Linked DNA regions of Homo sapiens. The protein of the gene in region 4 interacts with the protein of the main gene of each other region in a pairwise test. Each region holds a gene or a part of one and is shown on either strand. Other genes may lie near its edges.

The links.
Region 1: the proteins of ITGB5 (region 4) and FDFT1 interact in a two-hybrid assay, tested with the Homo sapiens proteins (one large-scale study listed by BioGRID and IntAct).
Region 2: the proteins of ITGB5 (region 4) and MYBPC2 interact in a two-hybrid assay, tested with the Homo sapiens proteins (one large-scale study listed by BioGRID and IntAct).
Region 3: the proteins of ITGB5 (region 4) and GON4L interact in a two-hybrid assay, tested with the Homo sapiens proteins (one large-scale study listed by BioGRID and IntAct).

Annotation. Positions count from the first base shown.
Region 1 is NC_000008.11:11,835,398-11,840,845, forward strand, and holds the end of FDFT1 (squalene synthase), read left to right. Parts: intron 1-2,990; coding exon 2,991-3,212; 3' UTR 3,213-3,901; downstream 3,902-5,448. UniProt on the Homo sapiens protein: Catalyzes the condensation of 2 farnesyl pyrophosphate (FPP) moieties to form squalene. Proceeds in two distinct steps.
Region 2 is NC_000019.10:50,434,472-50,440,390, forward strand, and holds part of MYBPC2 (myosin-binding protein C, fast-type), read left to right. Parts: intron 1-689; coding exon 690-779; intron 780-1,304; coding exon 1,305-1,391; intron 1,392-1,540; coding exon 1,541-1,689; intron 1,690-2,145; coding exon 2,146-2,263; intron 2,264-3,001; coding exon 3,002-3,050; intron 3,051-3,187; coding exon 3,188-3,247; intron 3,248-5,919. UniProt on the Homo sapiens protein: Thick filament-associated protein located in the crossbridge region of vertebrate striated muscle a bands. In vitro it binds MHC, F-actin and native thin filaments, and modifies the activity of actin-activated myosin ATPase.
Region 3 is NC_000001.11:155,766,715-155,772,633, forward strand, and holds part of GON4L (GON-4-like protein), read right to left. Parts: intron 4,504-5,919; coding exon 4,353-4,503; intron 828-4,352; coding exon 711-827; intron 1-710. UniProt on the Homo sapiens protein: Has transcriptional repressor activity, probably as part of a complex with YY1, SIN3A and HDAC1. Required for B cell lymphopoiesis.
Region 4 is NC_000003.12:124,841,090-124,847,008, reverse strand, and holds part of ITGB5 (integrin beta-5 isoform a precursor), read left to right. Parts: intron 1-5,457; coding exon 5,458-5,626; intron 5,627-5,919.

The DNA.
Region 1 (5,448 bases), on a different chromosome or scaffold from region 4:
AGTTGTGCTGTCATGCTTATATGTTAGAAATGATCATCAAAGGACTCAAAAGTTTTGCCACTAATTGTATTACCGGGGACTGTCACAACCAAGATTTCTCTTAATTTATTCACCTTACTTATCTCCTGGAAGGGCATATTGAAGTGCTCTTGGAGTTCTCTAAAAGGGTTTTTGTTGGTTGTGTATATTCACTTGGGTGCCAGCGATTGATTCCAAATAAGTAAATCTTTTTTCCCAAAAGGATGTAAGATGGCTTATGGTTATAAGTACAACAGGCTAACAAAGTACAAGTAGATGAGAAAGTAAAATGAAGAAATAAAGTCATAGGAGCCACAGAATTAACCCAGGAATGAATAAGTGTGTAGTTTGGTGCTGATGTTATCATCCTTTATTTGTACATTGCTTGTACAGTTGCTCTGAGAAGGTAAGTCTTAAATTTTCAAAAGTGAAATGTCACCGAGCATGGTGGCTGATGCCTCTAATCTCAGCACTTTGGGAGGCTGAGGCAGGCGGATCACTTGAGGTCAGGAGTGCGAAACCAGCCTGACTTATGTGATGAAACCCTGTCTCTACTAAAAAAAAAAAAAAAAAAAAAAAATACAAAAGTTAGTTGGGCATGGTGGCAGGTGCCTGTAATCCCACCTACTTGGGAGGCTGAGGCAGGAGAATCGCATGAACCTGGGAAGTGGAGGCTGCAGTGAGCCAAGATTGCACCACTGCACTCTAGCCTGGGTGACAGAGCGAGACACCATCTTAAAAAAAAAAAAAAATCTACAATATACCAAAACCATTACTTACCTGAGAAACTATTCTCAGGGTCATTGTAGTGAATGCCTATTTTATGGCTTTTGATGGCATCAGGGCACTCAGGTCATTTACAAGAGTAGTGTGTGAGACCCTGTGTGTCACTGCCACTCATCTTGGCCTTCGGCCACTGCTGTAGCAACCAGTTTCCAAGTAGGGCTGGACCTTGCCTTCTGCTCCAGAGACCTCTCGCTTCCTGCCCTTGGGCTTCTGACGAGCTGCAGGAACTGCCTGGCACGTGGGTCCCCACAACCCAGAGGAGGTGAGGGCCACCTCTCTGCTCCTCAGGGCCACCTTTCATAAGGCTCCTTGAAGGTCCCTCAAGATCAAGCCAACTCAACACATCCTTGATAGGCCTTCCTGCCTTCTGTTTCACTTCTCCACTCGTTTCCAAATAAATGGCTGCATGCAAGCTTTTGCCTCAGGTTCTGCTTTTAGGAGGAAGGCTAAGACAAGCAGTAAAGCAACATGGGCAGGCAGAAGGATGACTTCTAATAGAATTATCTCATCACTATATATTTTACTTTATGGATGCTTGTATTGAAAAGTCTTGGCTGGGTGGAGTGGCTCACGCCTGTAATCCCAGCCCTTTGGGAGGCCGAGGTGGGTGGATCACTTGAGGTCTGGAGTTTGAGACCAGCCTGACCAACACTGGTAAAACCTTGTCTCTATTAAAAATGCAAAAATTAGCCAGGGATGCACGCTTGCTGTGTGCCAGCACAGGGCTAGGCTGGAGATAAAAAGGTGAGTAAGTAGGTGCGGTGTAGTCAGGGTGAAAACTACAGATGGTCCATTTCCACGTAAGTGGAAAGGTAAAGGTATGTACAATAGGGTGGCTCCTGGCTGAACCTGGAGCTGCAGACAGGTTTTCTAGAAGGCATAATCCTGAAGTTGAGACTTGGGGGCCTAGGTAGGAGCCAGTTGAAGGGACGTGGGAGGCGCATTCCAGAGAGAAGGAGTGGTATGAGACTGGAACAGAGGTGTGCAGCAGCATCGCATGGGCGAAACAACAGTAGACAGTTGTTCTTTTGTTTTTGTTTGTTTTTTGAGACAGGGTCTTGTTCTGTCATCCAGGCTGGAGTGCAGTGGCATGATCTCGGATCACTGCAACCTCCACCTCCCAGGCTCAAGTGATCTTCCCACCCCAGTCCCCAAGTAGCTGGGGGACCACAGGTGCATGCCACGATGCCCGGCTAATTTTTGTACATTTTGTAGAAACAGGGTTTTACTGTGTTGTCCAGGCTGGTCTTAAACGCCTGAGCTTAAGCAGTCTACGTGCCTCAGCCTCCTGAAGTGCTGGGATTCCAAACATGAGCCACTGTGCCTGGCCCGGCAACTGTTACTAGACTGTAGAGAGGGAGGTGGGCAAGGGCTGGTGACACTAGACAGGTGCAGTAGGTCTGGACCATGGGTGGCCTTGCGCTACACATTACAGAGCTCAGGCTTTTTTTCTCCAGGTGAGAGGGCTGGTGCCACTGAGGCATCAAGCAGAGGTTTGAGATCTCCTTGGTGACAGTGTAGAGCAGACAGGTAGATTTGGGAATTTAAGCTTAGACTCACGTTGGAGACTGAGATAGCTCATCTGAGAGGCACTCAGGGCCTAATCTCAGGCAGTAATTTTAGGGATGTAGGGGAAGAGATGGATTCTGCACATACTTGGGAGGCTTGTGGAGGAGTGGGGAGGGAGGCACAGGGAGGACTCCAGGGTGGTTCATACGGCTCCCTGCTTCTGTTCCTGTCCCCCTTTGTCAAGCTGTGGTCTGTACTGCGTGTTCCATCTTGTTTCTAAGCTGCTTTTGCCCAGTCTTTCCAGCATTTCCCTTTCGTCATGTTAGTCTGTGCCTGTCTACGTGAACTATGGTGACGTTTATTGGGCCTGGCACTGTGAGGTGCTGGGGATGTGAAGATCATTGTGGCTCAGCCGCTGCTCTCGAGGGCCTCTGGGTGCAGTATGCACACCTGTGCCTCCTGTTTGCTCAGGAAGACAGGCTTTGAGATGAGCTGGGGCTGACATCCCCACCTTATCATTGGGATGGCTTTGGGTAAGTTATGTTCATGTTCTCTGAGCCTCCCTTTCCTCATTGGTAAAATGGGTATAAAATACCTGCCAGTGGAGGGTTGTTGTAAGTAGCCATGGAAAATGTAAAGCACATAGCACTTATCATTTTTTCCTGTGTCTTTAACAGATTTATCATAGAATCCCCGACTCAGACCCATCTTCTAGCAAAACAAGGCAGATCATCTCCACCATCCGGACGCAGAATCTTCCCAACTGTCAGCTGATTTCCCGAAGCCACTACTCCCCCATCTACCTGTCGTTTGTCATGCTTTTGGCTGCCCTGAGCTGGCAGTACCTGACCACTCTCTCCCAGGTAACAGAAGACTATGTTCAGACTGGAGAACACTGATCCCAAATTTGTCCATAGCTGAAGTCCACCATAAAGTGGATTTACTTTTTTTCTTTAAGGATGGATGTTGTGTTCTCTTTATTTTTTTCCTACTACTTTAATCCCTAAAAGAACGCTGTGTGGCTGGGACCTTTAGGAAAGTGAAATGCAGGTGAGAAGAACCTAAACATGAAAGGAAAGGGTGCCTCATCCCAGCAACCTGTCCTTGTGGGTGATGATCACTGTGCTGCTTGTGGCTCATGGCAGAGCATTCAGTGCCACGGTTTAGGTGAAGTCGCTGCATATGTGACTGTCATGAGATCCTACTTAGTATGATCCTGGCTAGAATGATAATTAAAAGTATTTAATTTGAAGCACCATTTGAATGTTCGTAATAGTAGAAAATGATGTGAATTTTCTTTCTGTTCGGCTCCTATTTTTCTCATCATTTTGTTTTCTTTAATTGGGTTGAATGGAGTAGATAGAAATATTTATGGTTTAGGTAACAGTTAGATGTTTCCTAAGAATGCAAACTGCCTTTTCCACACAAAGGCTGGGAATAAAATTCTGGGTATTCTCGTATTCTCATTTAAAGGAGTTTAGCTTTCAGAGAGAAACAGCAGGATTGCTTTTGACCTTTTAGAAGATTGGTCTCCAGTAAAGGTGGACATTTTTGAGATTTTTATAATAAAGAATTTAATTGCTCTGCATTTGTCAAGTACAGTTCGCTTGAAAGCCTGCCTGACTGTGGAAAAGATGGAGCTCAAGAATGGAGTTGATGGCCCAGCGTGGTGGCTCATGCCTGTAATCCCAGCACTTTGGGAGGCTGAGGCGGTCGGATCACGACATTAGGGGATCGAGACCATCCTGGCTAACACGGTGAAACCCCGTCTCTACTAAAAAAAAAAAAAATTAGCCAGGCGTGGTGGCGGGTGCCTGTAGTTCCAGCTACTCGGGAGGCTGAGGCAGGAGAATGGCTTAAACCCGGGAGGCGGAGCTTGCAGTGAGCTCAGATCGCGCCACTGCACTCCAGTCTGGGCAACAGAGCGAGACTCCATCTCAAAAAAAGGAAAAAATTGTAAAAAAAAAAAAAAAAAAAAAAAAAAAAAAAAAAAAAAAATTTCCCCCAGCAGTTTTTGTTTTCTAAAGTTATCAGTTTATATATTCAGGTCTTAAGAAAGGCAAAAGCTGTCTTCAGGTGATTGGCTTGGGGGCAGAACAGTACTTCTGCTCGGGGTTTCACCTTCCTCTCTACTCCAGTGCAGCAGAGCTTGTGATGTGCTCTCACTGAGGTGCTCAGTGCAGCAAGGAGGCCTGTGGACCCTCGAGTTGAGAATTGGTGTACTAGGGCATTCGGTACTTTCTAGAAGCCATTAATGCTACAGGTACTCATAAAGTCTACTCTTCTGCAGCCCATCGTGGATGGTGGCTTAATCATTGAATTTGAGTTGTTTCGAGCTGCAGCGTTGGATTTGCATTGTTGTAAGCACACTTTCTTGCTGTGACCACTGACACCAAAATTAGTTTGGGCCCAGGGAGACTTCAGTTAATTGGTTCATTTGAGGCTTAGCCCTGGACTCATTTGTCACCAGCCAAGATAACTTGCCACATGGAATACAGCCAGACCAGGGGTCCCCGACCCCCAGGCCTAGGACCGGCACTAAACCTTCTGTTACGTGGCCTGTTAGGAACCGGGCATCACAGCAGGAGGTGAGCGGCGGGTGAGTGAACATTATCACGTGAGCTCCACTCGGCGTTAGATTCTCATAGGTGCGATTGCGCGTGTGAGGGATCTGGGTTGCATGCTCCTTGTGAGAATCTAGTCCCTGATGATCTGAGGTGGCAGTTTCATCCCAAAACCATTTTCCTCCCTCTGTCCTTGGGAAAATTGTCTTTATGAAACCGGTCCCTGGTGCCAAAAAGCTTGGGGACCACTGAGCTAGACTCGACAGTATTTTCCAAGGAATTAAAGCCTCAAAACTTGGTTTGAGATTTCAGGGTAGGTTGTTAAAAATCTGTGTGTTGAAATCTAAGATTTAATTCTGCCAAAGTTCACGTTAAGACAGAACAACCTGCTGGAAAGAGATTTGGTCTGAGTGGGGCCTGTGGAAATCTTCTTTCCTGACTTGGTCATTACCTGTGGGACCACTTCCTGAGCTGTGTGGTTTGGGTGATCTCAGATTTTTTCTATCTATAAAGCTATGTGCTTTTTTCTACTCACTGAGTTGTAGAAAGGTATCCGCTCTCATTCCATTCT
Region 2 (5,919 bases), on a different chromosome or scaffold from region 4:
TCTCTGTATTAAGGATGGGGGAGCCTCATTTCTGTGGGCACTGAGGCTTCCCCGTGTAGGAATTAGCGGGGCTTCTTCATGCAGGGAATGGGGTCCTTTTTGCGGGGTTTGGGGACCTTCTTTGAATGGGGAACACTTTCTGTGGAGATGAGGCTTTCTCTCTATGAGGAACTCACCGCAGGAATCATGCACCGCTGGGCGGACCCCCTCCTGGGATGTCTGGTCCGCTGGCATCAGGCCAAGCAGGCTGTGGGGTGGGTCCAGCCCCTACTGTAGCTGCAGACCCAGCCGGCAAGGAACAGCAGGCAGGGCAGGGGAAGGATGCTGCGGTCAGCACCAGGTGTCCAGTTTCCAGCCCAGAGGGAGAGCTAATTATACCCTCGGACCCAAAAGGTCAGGGCGTGGTGGCCTGGGCGGATGGGGCAGGGCCTGCTGGGGGTAAGGGAAACCCGATCCCACAGACTCTCAGATCTGAGATAAATTTATACCTAGGGTGGGGGCCTGGACTCTTGGGTCTGAGGGAGGAGGGGCTGGGGGCCTGGACTCCTGGGTCTGAGGGAGGAGGGGCTGGGGGCCTGGACTCCTGGGTCTGAGGGAGGAGGGGCTGGGGGGTCTGGACTCCTGCGTCTGAGGGAGGGGCATGGGTGTGCAGACCGCATGCTCAACTATGACTGTCCCCTACCTTACAGCGGCCAAAAAGGCCCCCAAAGGCAAAGATGCCCCCAAAGGAGCCCCCAAGGAGGCTCCCCCTAAGGAGGCTCCTGCAGAGGCCCCCAAAGGTGAGGAGGTGCTCCCTCGGGCTCAACCGACCTGGCTTCTCATCTCCATCCTCCTCGCTACGCCTCTCCAGGCCTTTCCCCAGCCTCTATCCTTGAATCTGTCCCCGCACAGCCCCAGGGCTGACCCACGCCTCCCGTGCTCCCAGCCCTCCCGGGGCTCCCTGGCACCCGCAGGCAGAGCCCAGCCCCTCGGCTGGCATCGGCTCCGGTCAGCTGGCTGATTGATCACCAGGTCCGGCCCCGGTCTCTCTAAACCTCTCCCGCCCCAAAGGCACATTCAGTGCCCTCCAGTCCACAGATGAGGAAACCGAGGCCCAAAGGGGTGAGGGAGCCTGGCCAAGGTCACACAGCCACGAGGGTGACAGGTGGCCTTTCCCAGGTCAGGAAAAGCCATTTAACCCCCATGATGTTTGGTTTCTGAGTAGAGGGGCCCTCACTGTCTCTAAGTCCTTTCCCCAAAGCGGCCCACTGTCCCCTCCCCAGCCTATCTCAGACCTCCTCATCCTAATCCTGTCCCCTGAACAGAAGCCCCACCCGAGGACCAGTCCCCGACTGCAGAGGAGCCCACCGGCGTTTTCCTGAAGAAGCCGGACTCCGTCTCAGTGGAGACTGGTGAGGGGAACCCGGGGGAGGAGGGGCTGCGGCCCGGACTCCTGGGTCTGAGGGAGGAGGGGCCAGGGTCTCGTTCTGTCTCCCTCTGGAGAGCCTTATGTTCCTTCCTGGGCCTCCTCCCACTCTACCCTGTCACTCACCCCATGTAGGGAAGGACGCAGTGGTCGTGGCCAAGGTGAACGGGAAGGAGCTCCCAGACAAACCGACCATCAAGTGGTTCAAGGGGAAGTGGCTGGAGCTGGGCAGCAAGAGTGGCGCCCGCTTCTCCTTCAAGGAGTCCCACAACTCCGCCAGCAATGTGAGGACCCCGTGGGCCAGAGGGCTGGTGGAGGGGAGTGGAGCTTGTGCAGGACATGCTCCTCAGAAGCCCTGTTGCCTGAGGCATCAATGTGGGCCTGGAGCCGGGATGGAGAGTGGGCCCTCTGAGGATGGAGGTTGTGCGGGGCTGCTGGGGAGAGGTTGTGTGAAGCAGAGGGAGGATGCCTGGGGTTGGGTGGGGATGCATTAGGGCTTGGTCATGTACATTCCTGGCAAGGCCTGAGGGGGCCAGGGACCTGGGCCCCAGAAGTCCTGATGGGTCAGATATGAGGAGACAGAGCTGGCCACCAGGTGCTGAGACCCCTCTCGGTCTCCATTGGCCCCCCTGTGGGGTGGGGGTGAGGACGTGGAGATAGAGCTATGAGTGGACTCTGAGGAATATGGGGTGGCTCTAGAGGGTGGTCCCGTGCACCCACACCCCCGGCCCTGGACCCAGGTGTACACCGTGGAGCTGCACATTGGGAAGGTGGTACTGGGGGACCGTGGGTATTACCGCCTCGAGGTCAAAGCCAAGGACACCTGTGACAGCTGTGGCTTCAACATCGATGTGGAGGGTATGCTGGTGGGGGATGCGGGAGCAAAGGGTTCTATGTCTGGGTGGGGTGGACAGATGTACCAGCCAGGTGTTGGGAGAGTGCACAGGCATGGGCATGAGGTGGGCACAGGTTTTTGGAGGAGGGAGTGCAGATTCTGGGGTCAGAGTATTCAAACTCAAGGAGACATAGCATGGGAGGAGGTCTGGATTTCGGGGGTGAAAGTGTACAGGGTCTTGGGATGCACATGCAAAGGCTTAGGAGGTGAGTTATGCACATTCCACGTTTAAGAAAGTAGGCAAAACGGCTTGGGAAGTGAGGGTGTCCAGGTTTAGAGAAGAAGGATGTAGGGGTTTAGAGTGAGGGTGTACAGGATTAACAGGAGGTTACACGGATTTGAGGGCACATATATGGGCCCCTGAGGGTGTATGGGCTCTGGGGGTCTGCAGCCCAGAATGTGTGAGGGCTTAAATGTGGGGTGCACAGGAAATGAGATTGTCCAGGCCTGGGGAGAAAGACATGGTGGCCCAGGTGTGGGGGGTATAGGCTGCTGAGAGAGGGTGGAGCTTGGCAGCTGGGGAAATGAGTATGAGCTGGTCTAGAACTAGAGGATGCCCAGGCCTGAGCAAGGTTGTGCTGGTCCAAGAGATGGAGAAAAGGGGGCCTGGAAGAGGTTGTGCAGGCCTGGAGAGGGGCTCTCAGTCTAAGATCAGCCCTGGCCTCTAACTCACCTTCCCTTCTCTCATCACCTCTCCCCAGCACCCCGTCAGGATGCCTCTGGGCAGAGTCTAGAAAGCTTCAAGCGTACGTAAGTGACCCCAGGCCCTTACCAGGGTCCCAAGGACCATGGGAGGCTCTCCCTTGGAAGGGGAAAAAGGGAGGATTGGGGAAGGCAAGGGGTGAATCTGAAGGGTCAAGACTCACATGCCCTCTCAATGGCCACAGGAGTGAAAAGAAGTCGGATACTGCAGGTGAGCTGGATTTCAGTGGCCTGTTGAAGAAGAGGTGAGCCCCGGACTTGGCACAGAGAGGGGAGATGGGACTCAAGGGGAGGAGGTGGTGGGTGAAGCTCCATGGCCCACTGATTCCTCCTGGACCCACTGCTTATCCCTCTACCACCTCCATCTGTTCACTCCCTGCCCACCCAGCATCTAACACACCAACCCATCAGGCTGCCTGTTCATCCACCCACCTACCCATTTACCCAGACCCCTACCCACAACCCCACCCAGCCAAACATCTGCCATGAGTTCACCCACCTTCTCACCCCTTAACCCACCATTCTCACACCCACTCTGCTGTTCACTCAGGCTCTAGTTCACCTATGCCTCCACCTACTCACCCTCCCATCCATCCATCCCTCCATCCCTCCACTTTCCACCCACTGATCCATTCACTCACCCATCCATCCAACCAGTGGCCTATTTATGTATCTACTAATACATCTATCCACCTACCTGCCCAGTTGCCAATCTATCTACCCACATATCCATCCGTTAACCACCATTTTCCCACCTGTTTACCTGCCCATCTGCCATTACAGTCAGCCTAGCTACATGGGTAGGTGGATGGATAACGGGTGAATGGGATGTTGGATTTGGTTGGGAGATGCAGGTGCAGATAGACAGGTGGGAAGGTGGGTGGATGGTACGGATGAATGCATGGTGGAGAGGTGGGAGGATGGGTGCCTCAGTAGGTGGGGAAGCGGATGGATGGATGGGGTGGGTGGACGATGAATGGATGGGTTCATGAATAGGTGGCTGAGTTCACCAGTGAAGAGGTGGGCAGTTGACACGCCCATCCACACAGATAGCCCTCTGTTAGATTGAACTATGTAAAATTGATGTTCTGCAGGTAAAAAATGATTGAAGTCTGGGTGCAGTGGTTCACGCCTATAATCCCAGCACTTTTGGAGACCAGTGTGGGAAGATCACATGAGCCCAGGAGTGTAAGACCAGCCTGGGCCACATAGGGAGACCCTGACTCTACAAAAAAAAGAAAAATTAGCAGGGCATGGTGGCATGTGTCTGTGGTCCTAACTACTTAGGAGGCTGAGGGAGGAGGATCGTTTGAGCCCAGGAGATCAAGGCTGCAGTGAGCCATGATCGCGCCACTGCACTCCAGTCTGGGCAACAGAGTGAGACTGTTTCAAAAACAACAACCACAAAAAATTAAATATCGGCAATCTCATATGCATTATCTGCTGGCCCACTTATCCATCTTCACTTGCCCATCAATCCCCATAACTATATCCCTGACAATTCCATTTACTGATCAATTCTGTCTGCAGCCAGCCAGCCACTTCCTTGGCCACTTCTCATCAACATATTCACCCAACTGCGCAGTCATTTCTCACCAACCCATCAATCCATCCACTCACCCACCTGTCTTCCCCCAACCCATCAATCCATCCACCCACCCACCTGTCTTCCCCCAACCCATCAATCCATCCACCCACCCACCTGTCTTCCCCCAACCCATCAATCCATCCACCCACCCACCTGTCTTCCCCCAACCCATCAATCCATCCACTCACCCGTCTTCCCCCAACCCATCAATCCATCCACCCACCCACCTGTCTTCCCCCAACTCATCTGCCTCTCTTCCCACCCACCCTTCCACTGACCCACCCACCTACTTATCAGCCCACTTACTCACCATTCTGTACATCAATTCAAATATTCATGTCCCCACATTCACCTCCACATCTATCCTCTCTTTGTTCCTTTCCCTTCCTTCCTTCCCTCCCAAGCTCCATCCATGCATTCACTCACTCTCTCACCCATCAACCATCTTCTGAGGCCTCCCGTCTACTAGGTCCTGGGCTGAGATCCATGCATTCACTCACTCTCTCACCCATCAACCATCTTCTGAGGCCTCCCGTCTACTAGGTCCTGGGCTGAGATCCATGCATTCACTCACTCTCTCACCCATCAACCATCTTCTGAGGCCTCCCGTCTACTAGGTCCTGGGCTGAGATCCAGGGAGAGAGAACAGTCTGACTGGGTCCCTGATGTGAGATCACTCATTGCCTTGGGAAATGGGTCTTGTCCAACAGACATAGATACAGACTGAGACTATTTGGTGTGATTTTAGAGAGGGTCCCACCGGGGCCTGTGAGAGCCCAGAGCACGAGCAACTCACTGTCTTGTAGGACACGGAATGCCTCAGGGAGAAGGGAACTTTGGTGCTAGGTCTTGTAGGATGAAGAGGAGTCTGGGAGGAAGAGAAGGTAGGGAGAGGTCATGAAGGTAGGGAAACATTTTGTGCAAAGGCTGGGAAGCAGGAGAGAGCCTGAAGTGTTCAGCAAAAGTCAAGCAGCTTGGTTCAGGTGACTTTGGGGGGAGTGACGGAAGTAGCTGGGGTGTGATGGCCAGGCGGAGGGCTGGGGCTTCCTCCTGAGGGCAGTGGGGAGCCACAGAAGAGTTCTGAACATGAAAGGGAGAACCACTGATGTGGGTGTCAGAAATACCCCACAGGATAAAAGAGGACAAATAGGGTGCAATGTATGCTGCTTGGGTGATGGGTGTACCAAAATCTCACAAATCACTACCAAACAGCTTACTCATGTAACCAAACACCACCTGTTTCCCAATAACCTGTGGAAATAAAATAAATAAATAAATAAATAAATAAATAAATAAATAAATGAAAAGAAATACTCTGCGGACCAGGCA
Region 3 (5,919 bases), on a different chromosome or scaffold from region 4:
GGAAACAAGAACACTCTGATCCAGCATATGTCAGAATTTGGGAAAAAGAGGCTTGGCACAGTGGCTCACGCCTGTAATCCCAGCACTTTGGGAGGCTGAAGTGGGCAGATCACTTGAGGTCAGGAGTTCAGGATGAGCCTGACCAACACGGTGAAACCCCGTCTCTACTAAAAATACAAAAATTAGTTGGGTGTGGTGGCATGTGCCTGTAATCCCAGCTACTCAGGAGGCGGAGGCAGGAGAATCACTTGAACCTGGGAGGCAGAGGTTGCGAGAAGCCGAGATCGCACCTTAGCCTGGGTGGACAGAGCAAGACTCTGTCTCAAAAACAAAACAAAACAACAACAAAAAAAGAATTTGGGAAAAACAATAGGGCTTTCTAGGTTTTAGAGACCTTAGACAGTCTCAAGGCATCTTTCCAAGAAGGGTCTCTCTGCATATCAAATCTACAAAGACCACATTCTAATTATACACTTTAGAAACTTCTGTGAATTTCCTTTAGCAAATTATTATTTTACCTATTATTTTGAAAATGCTGTAGAATCACCCAGAGAAGGGCAGAAAAGTAAGGGAAGAAAGGTGAATCAGGAAGATTTCTAAAGTCCTAGTTCTACAACTAAAGCATTAGACGATTAAGGAAGCCCTTGATATTCTCTCAGAACTTTCAGTGACCTTCTGCCTCCTACAGACTTCGAGGAAGAGGGCTGTACCTTTAACCAGAATGGGAGCCGGTGTTCTTCTCTCTCTATAGGTGGCTTCCACTGATGTGGCTGGATCTCTTCACAGCATTTTCCTAGGACTGGCAGCTGTTTGGTCTTCTTATAAAACTTAACATGAAAAAAATGCGCATGAATTACATTCCTTCTGGAAACACTGTCCCCTGTCAGGCTGGTGAATGGGGTGGTGGTGGATCAAGAGAAACACACACACACACACACACACACACACAAGACCACATACACAAACATCCATGAACGCACATATATAAATAGCATATGCTGAATACTTGTACATTTCAAATTAAACTAATCTCTATTTAAATATTTCACAATTATTCAATATTTTCTAACTGATGATCTCCATTCTGGTTGCCAGGAAGGGGAGAGTTTAGGTCACAGAGAGAAAAGGAAGCAGATGCTCAGAGCAATCTTATGTAAGATTTGTTCTTGATCAACAGCTGCAAAGACAACATCGTAATCTATACCTTGGACACATGAAAGCTTCCTTTTAAGCAAATGGTGGTGTGAAAGGCATTAGAAGAGAAGGGGGGAAAAAAAGAGCCTGAGAAAGTTCAATTTTAAGAGTAAATGAAGGTTGGGCGTGGTGGTTCATGCCTATAATCCCAGCACTTTCGGAGGTGGGCAGATTACCTAAGGTCAGGAGTTCAAGACCAGACTGGCCAACATGGCAAAACCCCTATTCCTACAAAAATACAAAAATTAGCCAGGCATGGTGGCACGCACCTGTAATCCCAGCTACTCAGCGGGCTGAGGCAGGAGAATTGCTTGAACCTGGGAGGTGGAGGTTGAGGTGAGCTGAGATCAGAGACAGTGCCACTGCACTCCAGCCTGGGTGACACAGTGAGACTCCGTCTCAAAAAAAAAAAAAAAGAATAGGCCAGGCGCAGTGGCTCACCTTGTAATCCCAGCACTTTGGGAGGTTGAGGTGGGCAGATCACGAGGTCAGGAGATTGAGACCATCCTGGCTAACATGGTGAAACCCCGTCTCTACTAAAAAATACAAAAAATTAGCCAGGCGTGGTGGCTGGTGCCTGTAGTCCCAGCTACTCAGGAGGCTCAGGCAGGAGAATGGCATGAACCTGGGAGGCGGAGCTTGCAGTGAGCCGAGATCACACCACTGCACTCCAGCCTGGATGACACAGCAAGACTCCATCTCAAAAAAAAAAAAAAAAATTGAGACAGGTCTCACTTTTTTGCCCAGGCTGGTCTTGAACTCCTGGGCTCAAGTAATTCTCCCACCTTGGCCTCCCAAAGTGCTGGGATTATAGGCGTGAGCCACGGCCCCATTTAACTCTTGAATATTCATGTAACACCTGTTTCTCCCAACCTCTGATAGCATGTAAGATTTTTCCTTTGGCTCCAATGTTTTGAAAATTCATGATAATATGGCTTAGAATTTGTCTAGTTTCATCCGTGGTGCTAAGGCACTTGATAAACCGTATTCTGCTGCAGAAAAATCTTTTTCCTTCACGTTTGAGTTGTGTGTCATTTTCTGTGCACATCTTTGTACTTTTTGTTTGTTTCTCTGCTTCTTGATCTTTGAGACAGAGACTCCTCTGTCGCCCAGGCTGGAGTGCAGGGGAGTGATCCACGCTTACTGAACCTCTGTCTCCCTAGTTCAAGTGAGTTTTGTGCCTCAGCCTCCCGAGTGGCTGGGATTACAGGTGAGTGGCACCATACCTGGTCAATTTTTGTATTTTTAGTAGAGACGGGGTTTCACCATATTGCCCAGGCTGGTCTTGAACTCCTGGCCTCAGGTCATCTGCCTGCCTCAGCCTCCCAAAGACCTGGGATTACAGGCCTGAGCCACCGTGTACGGCCTCAATTTTTAAAAATTTAGAAAAAAATTAAAATAAAAAATGCTACTAGAATGTGTTTCACTAAAGGAAGGAAGTAAAACAAAAACACAGATGTAGAATTCAGGAAATAAGAAGATCCAACACAGTAAGAGGCAAAAAGAATTCCCAGGATGATGGGGAGGAAAAAGCCCAAAACATCAGTGCAGCAAGCCCAGAGAGCAACACGCTTAGAGTGGAATAGTGTCAGAGGGCTCAAGGAGCAATTCCTTCAAGATGAAAGTGACGGAATATCTAGAAGGCCAGACACGCTGAAAGGAGATTAAGAAAATTTAAGTAACCTTTACTGTTGACCTGGGAATAATTACATAATAAAATCAAGTCCAGCCCCATCCCCCTAAAAATGCGATTATTTACTCCAAGAAAAACAAAATGTTCAGCAGGAAAGGCAAGGTATCACAATAACATAGCTGTGAAGAGTATTTATACAGTCCTTAAAATCTTATAGTGTAAACCCTGAATACAACCTAACCAAAATTGTGACATAATTACTAGCGAGGAGATTGGAGAGCAGAAAATGTGCATGTTTGTGGTGGGAGTAAGGGAGTGAGGAGACAGGTAAATCCTCAGCTTCCTTGGCTTATGGTTAATGGTTAATAAATAAGGCCTAAATCCAATATACCAGGAAGTAGCAATTAGAGGCTGAGACAGGAGAATGCCTAAGGCCAAAAATTCGAGACCAGCCTGGGCAATATAGGGACACTCCATTTCTTAAAAAAAAAAAAAAAAAAAAAAAAAAAAAAAAAAATTAATAGGCAAGCATGGTGGCTCATGCATATAATCCCCAGCTCCTTGGGAGGCTGAGGTGGGAGGAATGCTTGAGCCCAGTAGCTGGAGCTTACAGTGAGCTATGACTGTACCACTGTACTCCAGCCTGGGTAGCAGAGTAAGACCCTTTCTCAAGAAAAAAACAAAAACAAAACAAAACAAAAGGCTGGGCATAGTGGCTCACGCCTGTAATCCCAACACTTTGGGAGGCCAAGCTGAGGCAGGCGGACTGACACATGTCAAAACTTCAAGACCAGTCTGGGCAACAAAGTGACACAGCATCTCCACACAAAATAAAATAATGAGCTAGCCTTGGTGGAACACGCCTGTAGTCCAGGATACTTGGAAGGCTAAAGTGGAAGGATCACTTGAACCCAGGAGTTTGAGGCTACAGTGACCTATGACTGAGCCAATGCACTCCAAACAGGATGATAGAGCAAGAACCCGTCTCTAAAAACACAACATAAATATCTAAATAAAAAAGAAGAAACCAGGTGCGGTGGCTCATGCCTGTAATCCCAGCACCTTGGGAGGCCAAGGCGGGTGGATCACTTGAGGTCAGAGGTTCAAGACCAGCCTGGCCAACATGGTGAAACCTCATCTCTACTGAAAATACAAAAATTAGCCAGGTGTGGTGGTGCATGCCTGTAATCCAAGCTACTTGGGACGCTGAGGCAGGAGACACCGAGGCAGGAGAATCGCTTGAACCTGGGAGGTAAAGACTGCAGTGAGCCAAGATTGCGCCACTCTACTCAAGCCTGAGTGACAGAGCAAGAGTCTGTCTAACAACAACAACAACAAAAAGCAAATAAGTGGAATACTGCCAGCGGAATATTGCCCAAAAGGCAATAGGGGAATTAATCTAGTGTAAAGTGGGAGAAATTAGCTTTAGATAAAAGAAGGTTCCTCTTTTCTTTGAGAATAACAAGATAAAAGAATGGGTACATATTGGTGAGGTGCCCGGATGGCGCATGCAGGAAACACTCACTTTAATGATGTTGTCAGGAGCTCTGTTCATGTTGAGGTTCTTGATTCTCACTGTCAGTTGGTGGGCAGTTTTGCAGGTTAGAAGGTACTTGCTGATTAGAGGATTAGGAAACTCAGTTCCTTCAAAATGCTTCAGTCCTAAAGCTAACAAACTGAGAAAGGAGAATAACACTAAATCTCACTTCACAGTCCTTCCTTCTAAAGGGTCTCCCCAGACTAACACATTTTACAATCTACTCTTTCATTTTTTTCTTGAGACAAGGTCTCACGCTGTCACCCAGGCTGGAGTGCAGTGGCACCATCGCAGCTCACTGCAACCTCTACTTCCTAGGCTGAAGCAATTCTCCAGTCTCAGCCTCCCAAAGTGCTGGGATTACAGGCATGAGCCATGGTGTGTGGCCCAATCTACCTTTTCATTTTTTTTCAGACAGGGTCTTGCTCTGTTGCCCGGGTTGGAGAGCGGGTGGCATGATTACAGCGCACTGCAGCCTTGAATGCCTGGGCTCAAGCGATTCCCGTACTTCATCCTCCCAAGTATCTGTGACCACAGACGTTCACCACCATGCCGGGCTAATTTTTTTCTTCCATTATTTGTAGAGACCAGTTCTCACTATGTTGCCTGGGCTAATCTTAAACTCCTGGCCTCAAGCGATCCTCCTGCCTCAGCCTCTCAAAGTGCTGGTATTACAGTTGTAAGCCCACCATGCCTGGTCAATCTACTTTTTGTAAATCTAATTCTTGTACAAGTTGGTGACTACTCAACAGAAAATTTCAGATACTTAGTGAGTACTGATTAAGTATTATGAATAAGAATAAGGCCAGGCGCAATGGCTCACGCCTGTAATCCCAGCATTTTGGGATGCCGAAGCAGGCAGATCACCTGAGTCAGGAGTTCGAGACCAGCCTGGCCAACATGGTGAAACCTCGTCTCTACTAAAAATACAAAAAATAGCCAGGTGTAGTGGTAGGTGCCTGTAATGCCAGCTACTTGGTCAGGAGAATCACTTGAAACCGGGGGCGAAGGTTGCAGTGAGCCGAGATCGCACCATTGCACTCCAGCCTGGGTGACAAAAGTGAAACTCTGTTTAAAAAAAAAAAATCAAATACTTCACAATTATGTGGGAACATAAGAAACTAGGCATAAATCATTAATAAACGTGAGATCATGATGAGCTGTATCATGACGAGCTGTATACTAACAATACAAAGGAAGTTCAAAGAGAATAGAAAGGAAGGAGAATAATTCTAATAAAACTAATACAAAATGAATAGGTACCCTGTCAGACAACTTAAACCGGCACCAATACTACCCTCTAACAACATATATGATCGTGGTTACATATACACATATGTGCTGATAACAGTGTGGCAATACACACAAAGGGCCATAAAAATGTTCATAATCTGGTGGGTGTGGTGGCTCATGCCTGTAATCCCAGCACTTTGGGAGGCCAAGGTGGGAGGATGCCTTGAGTCCAGGAGTTTGAGAGATGCCTGGATAACACAGAGAGACCCTCATCTCTACAAAAAAAAAAAAAAAAATTTAGCCATGTATGGTGGCACACGCC
Region 4 (5,919 bases):
CAAACAGCAAGGGGTAGAGCTGGAATATGAATACAGACAAACTACTTTTAGAGTCTGCATTTGCATTTTTTTTTGAGACGGAGTCTTGCTCTGTTGCCCAGGCTGGAGTGCAGTGGTGCAATCTCGGCTCCCTGCAACCTCCGCCTCCCGGGTTCAAGCCGATTCTCCTGCCCCAGTCTCCTGAGTAGCTGAGATTATAGGTGCCTGCCACCACACCTGGCTGATTTTTGTATTTTTAGTAGAGATGGGGTTTCACCATGTTGGCCAGGCTGGTCTTGAACTCCTGACGTCAAGCGACCCATCCACCTCAGCCTCCCAAAGTGCTGGGATTACAGGCATGAGCCACTGCATCCGGCCTGCGTTTGCGTTTAATATAATGTCTTCTTCCCCATTCAAATCACACTACAACACAGACACTTTACCTTAGGCTGAGTAATAATACCTGTCCCTAAACCACCCTACCCCCATGTCCTAGGGGCTTACCTGAGGATCATGGTAGGTTATGCTGCAGTAACGTAGAGTCTCCAAATCTCAGTGGCTCAACACAATGAACGTTTTTTTTTTGTTGGTTTTTTTTTTTTTTGCTTGTGCAACATCTGATGAGGGCTGAGCTGCTTTCCTTGGCAGCTCTCCATGCAGTAACTCAGGGATCCAGCTCCTTCCATCTTGTGATGCCATTCTCAATTCTTGGTCTTCCAGCTGCCACCAAGGGGAGAGAGCTGTTCTTAAATCCCTGAGCCCTCCCCTCTCCACAAGTCCTCTTTGGTAGCCTTCAGAGCTCCTAGCTCCAAGTTGGGCTGGGTGATAGGAGCAAGTTAGTGTGCTGGTGGCATAGGCTCTTCTGAATCCCTCCAGATCCTTCTGTATACTCTCCCAGAAGCTGACTTAGATCTTTTCAGGTATTGGGAACTGACACTGGTGGAAAAACAGACAAGAAAAAGTTTTAAATACAAATGAACTCTAAATTCTTTAACCACGAAGAGGCACTAGGCATCATCATTTGCTGGGTTTAGCTTCCTCCTGGCGACAGGTGGCCACAGGGACTATTACTACTTTGATTCTGTCTCCAAGGCCCTTTTCAGCTAAGTCTGGGTGTCAAATGTTTTTGTTGAAATTTTGCTGCTTACCAGGAGCAACAGCATCTTAACTGCAAGCCTTAAGCCTTTTTTCAATTCATCTGAAATAGTGATTTTATTTGCTTCTTTTCACCTCTGTCCTAATTGGGCCCTGTCTCCAGACAGATAGGGTGTGTCCCCACTTTCATTCTTCCAAGGCCCTTCCACTGACCGAGACACTAGATTGGAAGCTGGCAGAGAATCAAGGGCTGGCTCTAGGCGCTCAGCATTTAAATATTCAAAGTTATGACACATCATTACTTATTCAGAGCTCACTCTCTAAGTCCTCTAAGGCAGAGCCTGTTGCAGACAGTAAAACTCCTGACAGTGAGTACAAGGCACACTGAAAAGCTACTTGTAAGGCAGGAAGTCCAGTGAAGAATGAGAATGTGGAAGGAAACCTCGGGCCTGAGTTATGTGAAGCTCTCTTCTCTGAGCTGGGGAGGCACACGCAGCGTGGGGGCACACTGTGGCTTGGTGAGCAGGCCGAGCTTTGTCTCCCCACGTCCAGGCAGCACGGCATCCTGTGTCTCCTGGGTTCAAGTGATTCTCCTGCCTCAGCCTCCTGAGTAGCTGGTATTACAGGCACGTGCCACCACACCCAGCTAATTTTTGTATTTTTTAGTAGAGATGGGGTTTCACCATGTTGGCCAGGCTGGTCTTGAGCTCCTGACCTCAGGTGATCCACCCACCTCAGCTTCCCAAAGTGCTGAGATTACAGGGGTGGGCCACCACGCCCAGCCTAAAGTATTTTAAATTATTCTGTTTCTGTTTCTTGAATTGTGGATCCTTCAGGTGGATCCACAGCCAGTCAGTGTATTGGACCTGCTGACATGCCTTCATGAATTGTTTTTCATGCAATTTATAAGCTTTTCATTAGCTCTTCCTTGGAGGTTGTGGGGGCATCCCTGCAGAGCAGTTTTATGTTTGCCGTTGTCGAGAATCTCCAGGTTCACCGTGGGACTAGTTTTTCTGTTAATTTTTCAAATGGAGATGTCTTCACCATAAAAGCAGTGTATTCCAATTGCTCAGGCCTGGAGTTACAGTTTTTATGGGTAATTCATCTCATTCATGGTAGATGGTCAGCTTCCGTGCTGCTTTCCTAGACCAGTAGCTGGAGTTTTTCTGTTTCTGGTTTTAGTAGCACAGCAGCTCATTGTGCTGTTCGGCTTTATGCAGACAGCCCTATTCCAGTGTTCAGCCCTCTGCAGGACTGAGGCTCAGCATCTATTCCTGGTAGACCCTGCTCCAAGCCTGTAGGGCCTCAGTCAAGGCCTGACCCATTGCGGGGGTCCTTGGCATGAGTGCCTGCCCATTTCCTACCTTTTTTTTTTGAGACCGAGTCTTGCTCTGTTACTCAGGCTGGAGTGCAGTGGCGGGATCTCAGCTCACTGCAACCTCCACCTCCTGGGTTCAAGTGATTATCCTGACTCAGCCTCCTGAGTAGCTGGGATTACAGGTGCCCACCACCATGCCCAGCTAATTTTTGTATTTTTAGTAGAGATGGCGTTTCACCACGTTGGCCAGGCTGGTCTTGAACTCCTGACCTCAGGTGATCTGCCTGCCTCAGCCTCCTAAAGTGCTGAGATTACAGGCGTGAGCCACTGCACCCAGCCCCCACCTATTCTTTTAAGTCCATTCATTTGTTTTTTGGTGTTTTCTTTTTTTTTTTTTTTTTTTTTTTTTTTGCCAAAACCAAATACTTCTGAAAGGTCCATTCATTTATTGAATGGTTTCCTCTTCGTTTCTGGGATTTACTTTCTAAGCTTCCAGCCTAGGCTATATATTAAAAAATTTTAAATTACATTTTATCCAGCAGTTGTATATGTTTAGAGTTAGAAGAAGCAGATAAGATGTTTTCATTCCTGTTCCATGACATGGAGAGCCTTTCCATGTCAGCTTGATCCATGATATTCTCCTGAGGCATTAGATTGTTTTCTGGATTTGCCTAGGTCTGGTGTCTTCAAATTGGATTCACTTTTTATACATACAGACACTCCCTTGGCTCTTTAACCATATATATTTTATTTTTTATCTCCCTTGTTAATAATCCTTAATTTAGTAACTCTGTATGCATGGCGCTTATTTGGGGTCTCACAGCACAGACACATGAGAGGGGTAGGATAGTCTCCTGGCATGACCCCAGAACGTCCGGATCTTCAGGCCACTCAGACAGCTGCTCTGGGGTTAAGTCAGATAACTCATCACAGGTGACATCCTATTCCAGTGTCAGTGGAGACTCTCCTAGCGTCTGTGTGACAAAGCTCTTTTCCTAAGTGACTCTGACTTGGTTATAGTAAATTCTCTACAATGAAGGCTTCTCTCTGGCAAACACATCTTCTAATTCCTAACTACTTAACAGTCATTCTTTGCAGTAAAAATGTATCTGCTCATTGCTGTTTGCGGGAGTGAAAGGGAGGAGGTAAAACATGCTGAGCTGTAGCTGAGTTTGTCACAGCTTTCCTGGTTAAACAGCAATCATTATTCAGTTTCTTTTCTCCCTGTCCGCAACCAACCGGACCAAGTGTAAAAAAACCACACACCTGAAGTCCTAAATCATGGGCCAGAGCCACATAGGCCAGGGCAGGATCTTGGAGGAAGAGAGAGGGGGAGAGTTTGGATAGACTTACTTCCTTCTGGGCCTATGATCCACTTGCCAAATAGCTACAGATGGGACCTCAGTTCCTTCTTCCAGCTGGGAATGTAATTTCCATGATTGTTCTTTTCATGACAAAATGAGGAGGTAATGGAAAGTTTGGGTGGCCCGAGGCTGAGGTTAAAAGAGAGTTCCACCTGTCCAAGTACAAGGTGTTCATGAAGACTTCGGGAAAGGAGAAGGGAGAAACACAAAGGAAAGCCAGGCAGGGAGATCCCATCGCTGCCGCCGGCCCCGAGAGGGAGAGCGCGACTATCACAGGAGTGGGGCTGATTGATTCTGTGCAGGGTGGGCCTGTTGCTGGGGACTCTGTGCTGTGCTGTTGTGACTGTGTGGATGGAGAAGGGACTGTAGCCCTGAGAGGGAATGGAATAGCCCCTTAGAGAACCAAAGATTGCCCCTTTACAGAAGGGAGCCTGCCCAGACCTGCCCTGGTGAGTCTGCTTTTTGACAGCATTTAAGGCAGGGTCCTCCTAGCTGTTGCTAAGGCTGTTTTCTTTCCCATGTATGCAGCTTGAATTAGATTATAAAGCCTTTCCCTCAGGCCTGTTAGTGCTCGTTTTCCATCATTTATCCTGAAAGAGCGACTTCCTTAACATGGCTGGAGACCCTGCACAGTCTGGCCCAGCCTGCCTCCCAGGCTCCTCCTCGCCCATCCTCACCCGTTACTCTGCACCACAGCCCCCCGACCTCCCTCTGTCCTTGGGCTCTGTGCTCCCTTCTGCCACAGGACTCTTGCACATGCTCTTCTCTGGCTGGGACACTCTCCCCTCTTCCCTTTACTTTGTGAACCCATTGGTAAAACAATATAAGCTCTCTCTTCCAACTTTATTAGTTCTAGATCAAGCTGAAACTCTTAGAGCTGTAATGGAAAGTAACTCCCTTCAGGAATAGGGCCACTTGGAGTCTCCACAGGAGACTGAAAAGGAGATCACCCCATATTTCAGGAGAAAGGCTTGGTATTAACCTATTATTGATGTGTAATACTTCCTTCTTTTGTAATTTCCAGACATAACTTTCCATTTGAAGATGCTTAGTTTCTAAATAATTTTTATTGCATTTAGCAGAATTGATAGTTTGTTGGTACAATATTTAGAAACGAATGAAGAAGCAGATAAGATGTTTTCATTCCTGTTCCATTCAGCATTTGTCCATGTGCCTGCACATCCTGGTCACTGAGTGGATTGACATGACAAGATTATGTGATCCTGTGATCCTTTGTTGCGTGGCAGCAACATTGATGTAGAAGCTGGTTGCATGGAGTAACTGCACTTACATTGCCCTCACTGGGCATCATCCATGTTCCTTAGCCCAGAGGACACTTCCTCTCCACTCTGCCTAGGCTGGCCCACACCCCGGGTCCCACATACCTTTCAATGCCTATGTCAAGTCTTCCTCCAACCACAGTAGCCTACTATTATCTCTGTTTCCTTTGAACAATTTGTCCATACCATTCATTTATAACTTGGCATATACTGCCTTGCCTGCAGTTTAGGGCTGATGTTTGGAGAACAGGAACTATGTTATTTATCTTTGCTCTCTCTGCTGTGCCTGTCCTGGGGCATGTGGTAGGTGCTGGGTAAATAGTTATTGGTGCCTCTCAAGGCACTCAGTGAATGCTCAGAACACTTGGTTAAGATTTACAGACAATGATGGAAAAGTGACTCTTCTCTTCTTCCTCTCTAGTTACAAGTTGTTTCCAAATTGCGTCCCCTCCTTTGGGTTCCGCCATCTGCTGCCTCTCACAGACAGAGTGGACAGCTTCAATGAGGAAGTTCGGAAACAGAGGGTGTCCCGGAACCGAGATGCCCCTGAGGGGGGCTTTGATGCAGTACTCCAGGCAGCCGTCTGCAAGGTAACTTTCCTTTCTGGTCCTGTCCCTGCATGGGGAGGTCAAGGTAGAGAGCGTCAGTGGGTGTTGGTACTTCCTGCAGGAGTCTTTGAGTGCCCCAGCATGTGGCTCCTGACCACTCTGAAGTCAGAGGGTGAGCTCAGTGGAACTTCTGGGAAATCTACAGCAGTCAAATCAGCCGGAGCTCGGGAATGGATTGGGCTGGTCTGTGTCTCTGTGTCAGGGTGTGGTTGTGTGCAATGGAGTACTGTCTGCTAGAAGACAGCTGTCTGCATTTATACATTGGCTTTTTGGTT